Linked DNA regions of Homo sapiens: region 2 is linked to region 1. The links come from fine-mapping of genetic effects on gene expression. Tissue or cell type: whole blood. Region 1 holds a variant in brackets; the other region holds the start of a gene. All regions are shown on one strand. Distances are from middle to middle.

Evidence for each region. PIP is the estimated chance that this variant, and not a neighbour inherited with it, causes the effect.
Region 2: TCAF1 starts here. The variant in region 1 is fine-mapped to the expression of TCAF1 in whole blood (INTERVAL, PIP 0.94).

Annotation. Positions count from the first base shown.
Region 1 is chr7:143,878,231-143,881,000 of GRCh38, forward strand. The region is part of intron 1 of TCAF1 (TRPM8 channel associated factor 1); the gene reads right to left. Among named protein-coding and RNA genes, the nearest start is that of TCAF1, 23 kb to the right of the region's middle. The variant G/A (reference allele first, on the strand shown) is at 1,194.
Region 2 is chr7:143,900,680-143,903,449 of GRCh38, forward strand. TCAF1 (TRPM8 channel associated factor 1) reads right to left here and starts at 1,497. Exons shown (of 9, transcript NM_014719.3): 1 at 1,282-1,497. LOC105375549 (a long non-coding RNA gene) reads left to right here. Exons shown (of 3, transcript XR_007060574.1): 3 at 1-1,274. RefSeq lists enhancers at 465-1,002, 678-727 and a silencer at 1,518-1,657.

The DNA.
Region 1 (2,770 bases):
GCATGTGAATAATAGAGAATTCTTGCAGTGGAAAAACAATTTAACCTAACATAGATTTTACAAGCACTGAATTGAGCATGTATTGATTCTGATTTAATAGTTTTCATATTTTGGTACCATACTAATACTAACACTAACACTAATGCTAATTACTATTACATTCATTTCTCATATATCTCTGTGTACCCTTGAGAAAGCCCTTCACACAGGCTGTGGGCCTTCCACAAGCCAGGATAAAATAGCCCCAGTCTTGAGGTAACAAGTTCAAGACCATACTGGCCATTTATAGCCAGTCTCTAAACTAAAAAAGTCTTGAATTTATTAATTTCCCTCTAAGTGAGCTCTTTTAAGGCAAATTACATAAGCTCAACGTTTCTAGTAGTTAAACAGAAGCATTAATGACCTACCTACCTCAGGGGACTATTGAGAAGATACTGATATGAACATTTGGTAAGCAAGAAGCTTGTCTCTTCCCTGCTCCTCCTGATGCCCACAAATAATCAGGATAGCAAAGTGCACAGTGTCACAGTATGTCTCTTCTCCCTGCTGCTGCCATATCCAGCTGGTCACAAGTCCTATTAATGTCCTTGTTCATGGTTTCCAATCACACTGCCATTAACCTAGTTTAGGTCCTTAGTAATTCATGCCTGGACTCAACCGACCCAATTTCTAAGTTACCAAGACCTCTTCCCACCTTTACTTTTCTAAAACCACTCTAATCATGTTATTTAATCTCAAAGCTCCACCTTGGTCTCTGGGGACCATCTACTGCCTCCTGGTGTGGACTGCCTGCAGAGCTGGCTGCTCCCTGGCTTTTCCTGCCTTTTCTCCTGCTGCCTTTCTCCCTGCAGCATCCCGTCTGCCAGGCGCCCTTGGACATGCCCTGTTTTCATTTTAGATTATCTTCCTAATCTCTTTCCATTCTGTTCCCTCTCCCAAATCTTTCTATCTACGGAAATCCTGTCCTTCTAAGAGAAGATATGGCACAGAAAAGAAAATATAAATGGCCACTTGTGTGGAAAAAATGCTCAATCTCACTAGTAGTCAAGTAATGGAAAATATATCATGTGTTGCTCATAATATTGTTAAAAAAGATGATACTTCTTTCTAGGAGAAAGTGGAGGAGGAGAAGAAGGGGAAGGAGATGAAGATGAAGAAGACAAAGGTGGCTAGTAAAGTTTAATATTTGAAAG[G/A]CTAATAATGTTTAATACTTAAAAGACCATCACAATCGGCAGGAATGACGGAGAATGTCTGCGCTCTTTTTCAAAAACAATTTTATGGTGCCTACTTGGCTTCAAAGGTGTGCCTATCTTTAGACCCAACAACCTTTCTTCTAATAACCGTTCTTACAGAACTAAGAAGGGCAGTATCAAAGATATACGTACAGGATGCTTACTGCCACACAAAATTACAAAGGGAGATAAATGAAAACCTAGAAGTACAGACAGATAGACTAATGACAAAGAATGTTTCCTAGAACCATTTTTGATTCTTGTGGGTGCAGGATCTCTAACCCAAACCCACACCTATCCAACTTCCACATAGCCCCCAGATACCCCATTGTACCCAGCATAAGACCCTGTAGCACTGTCCCCAGCCATCTATCCACACACACCCACTAAAGAGTTGCCCATCAGAACCCTTCTCCCTCAGCCTCTGCTGCCTCTAACGCTGGCACGAGTACAAGCAGAACAGGGACCTCACATATCTGTCTCACTAGTTGTTTTCTGAGCTAGTTCAAGGATGAGTTGAATATATTTTACATCCACCTAGAAGAATGTCCTAGATACATTTCAAGTGAAAATTTCAAGTCACTATGATATGCAGAACATGAAGTCATTTTTGTATGGGCAAAGATAATAGTAATAGTTGTAATTAGTAGTGGTAGTAATTATTATTAGTAGTAGTAACAACACAATGCTTACCAGGTTCCTGGCATTACTACACGTGATTTCTGTAACTTATTTAATGCTGACAATAAACCTATGAGATATTTACTATCACTATCCCCATTTTATGGATGGGCAAAACAAAAACTCCAAAATCATAATGCCCAGAGAATTAATTATTTGCTCAAAATCACACAGGTGCTAAGTGGTGGTGGATCTAGGATTCAAATCCAGGAAACCCAGTGCTGGAGTCCATACTCTTAAGCACCAGGAATACATAAGTACCTGTTACATACCAGGCTTTTATATGCATTGAAAATCTATGGAGGCCACATTTCAACATAATCACATTGATTACATTAGGAAGGAAAGAGGTGAACCATTTTCTCTGTCTTTATACAAATCTGCATCCTTTGAATTGTTGTATGTATTGCTACTACAATGAGAAACAACACCGAGTTAATACAAATTCAGTTAAGCATGTAAACACACATTAAAAGATTAGGTACAGTTTTTACATGATGAGGTAGACTGATCAACTGATCCTGGCTCACTGGACCTAAAAGGTCTTCCTCCATCTCTGATCAGGTTGTGCATCTGCCCATCTATAAATTTGATTTCCTCCTCTATGGGGGTCCCTTGAACTCTGCAGCTGGTTGTGTCCCCACTTTAACCAGCTATCAGTGACTCCATCACTTGACTTTTGAACCAAATGCTCCCTCTCTATGCCCGAATCCATGTTTGTCCTCCAAGCTTGGTGAGCTCAAATGAATAAAACCTGGGGGAAATGTCCTTTCATTTCTCTCCCTAACCCCTCCCATGCTTCCTGCTTTCTTTCTCCTGGGCCCACCTCTGGCCCCTTTTAGCTTGCTGGAACCAAA
Region 2 (2,770 bases), 22 kb after region 1:
TTCGCTTTGGTTTGAAGCTGCTAGGTGTTGGGGTAATTTGTTACATAGCTTATAGATAAATCATACACCTCCAAAAGTAGAAACAATCCAATGTCCATCAGCAGTAGAATGGATAAATTATGTACATTTACACCTTAAATGACGAAAACGAAAATGGAAGGAAGCATGAAAGATGAATCTATAAAACTTAAGAATACGTACAGGATAATGTCATTAATATAATGTCATTATAATGAGAAAGCCAATACATATGTTTTAGGAATACACACACAAATATGGTAAAACTAAAAAGAAAAGCAAGGGATTCATTAAATTAAGACAAAAATCACGAAAGATGTCACATCTCAGAGAATGGAGGAGAATGGACCATGGGCATCAGTTGGGACTCATGGGCTTCTAAGGTACTGTGACGCCCTATTTCTTGACCCAAGGAGATGGTCAGGCATTCGTTTCATTATTTTTTAGACCATTCTGAGATATTTCATTTACTTTTTATTCAACATTTTAAAACAAAGTATTGAAACCAATTCATCAACAAATCACTAGTTTGGAGGATGAAAGTGATGGACCGATGGTTGGCTGGTCAGCTAGACAGACACATTCTGTCCTTTACGTCTAGTTCGAGCTGTACTTCTTCTAAATTTCCATGATTATCCAATTGGCAAAGATCTTTTTCTCCTGTACTTAAGGCCTTCTTCCGTTGCAGGTTGGGCCAAACTAGCGGCCAGCTCTCGGCTGTTTACCAGGGAACTGTATCACCCAGCACTTGCTGCTTCAGGCCAAATGCATTCCAGACTAACATTCAGCCTGAATCCCCGCGCCGCTCTCACCGCCACCCCTCCCCAGGTCCCTTCCCCCACCACAAACCCACACTGCGCCCGTGGGCGCCTAGAGCACTGGGGTGGATGAGAACTTCCACCTGGGCTTAACGGAGACAAGCTAGCCTAGAAGAATGCAAGCCCCCAGCTGGCGAGATCAAATCGCCTCGAGGGTTCCTGCTAGCTCAGATCTTAATGGCTCCTTGCGGAGCAAAAAACAAATCCTACGAAAATAGGGGGGGTCATCGCCTCCTGCCCAGCAGAGGGCATAACAATGCGGCGAGAATGAAATAGGCACCGAGCTGCAGAGAAAAATCATCAACGGGGTAGAGACGAAGGAAGGGATCCTCGGTGGAACGGCTCTATCACCTGGGGGCGCGCGCAGAGGCCGCAATCCACGCCCGGCCCTCCCCAGACGCTAAACGTCGCACCCCGCCCACCGCTCCCCGCCCCGGACACTAACCCGGGGCCCAGGCCTCGGTCACCGCGGGCCTCTCCTGGTCCAGAGTCTACGCTGAACCCCACTCACTGTTTGCCCCGCTGTTCCCTGCAGCGCGGGTTCGGGGCAGTAGCAACCTGCTAGGAGCGGGAGGCGGTTGTTCCCAGGAGGAAGCAGCTTCTCCGCCCAGGAGGCAAAGGGCAGCGGGCTCGAAACTACAGGACTTGGAAAGTCTTAGGCGGAGACTGCGGGGGTGGGGGGTGGTGAGGAGGGGCCTTCCAGGGAGCTGATTGGTCGACGCGGACGGGGGCGGGACTTGGCCGGCGCCGTCCCTCCCCTAGACCTCAGAGGCCCTGCCCGCAGATGTGGCGCCAAATCCCGGATGCAGGCCTAGGCGCCAGCCCAGGAATATAGGGAGCAAATTGTTAAGAACAAAACAAAACAAAACAAAAGTGAGAATACTTCTGAACAAGTGACGGCCTTGATAAATAGCGAGAGATGTTTATATAAAATAATACAGGACTATTTTTAAGGACGAGTGAAATCTATCGGTTCTAGCTATAGTTTTTAATTAAAAAAGCAAGTTGTATTAAAATGGAGAGTAGGATCTCTCTTTCCCCCTCCCCTCCCCTCCCCTCCCCTCCCCTCCCCTCCCCTCCCCTCCAGGGGGAGGGTCTGCTTCTGCCACCCAGGCTGGAGTGCAGTGGTGCCATCACAGCTCACTGCAGCTTCAACCTCCCAGGCTCAAGCGATCCTTCCACCTCAGAGGCTGGGACCACAAGTGCGCCGCCACCACGCCCAGCTAACTTTTTGATTTTTTGTTAGAGACAGGGTTTTACTTTGTTGCCCAGGCTGGTCTCGAACGCCAGGGCTCAAGTGATCCTCCCGCCTCGGCCTCCCAAAGTGCTGGGATCACAGGCCTGAGCCACTGCATCAGCTTTAGCATTACATTCGTGTATGAAGAAGACATGCTGCATGTGCTTCTATAAGAGGCGGGGCTAACGGTGGAGAAATTGTCTATTGATTCTTACCTTCACAACCACTGAATTGTTTTTTTTTAAACCAATACATTGTTTTTATAAGTTTAATAAAACAGTAAGGCGTTGAGAATGTTACTAACCAATCAACAGATGACAGATATTGGGCATGAGGGAGGAAAGAAAGAAAGGAGTAGCAGGGAAAAAGCCTGGACTTTGAAGCCACCACATCCTCTGCTTACAAGTTGGGCAGTGTATTCATTGCTAAGGCTGCTGTGATAAATTTTCACACATTTAGTGGCTTAAAACAACACAGATTTACTACTATCTTCCAGGACTGTAGGTCCTGGAAGTCCAGCACAGGTCTCACTGGGCTATCATCCAGGTGTAGGCAGGGATGTGTTTCTCTTTGCAGGATCTAGGGACAAATCTATTTTCCTTGCTTTTTCCAGCTTCCAGAGGCTCCCGCATTCCCTGGCTTGCAGCCCTTTCCTTCATCTTCAAAGTCAGCAATCTCATGGCTCCAGCCTCTGCTT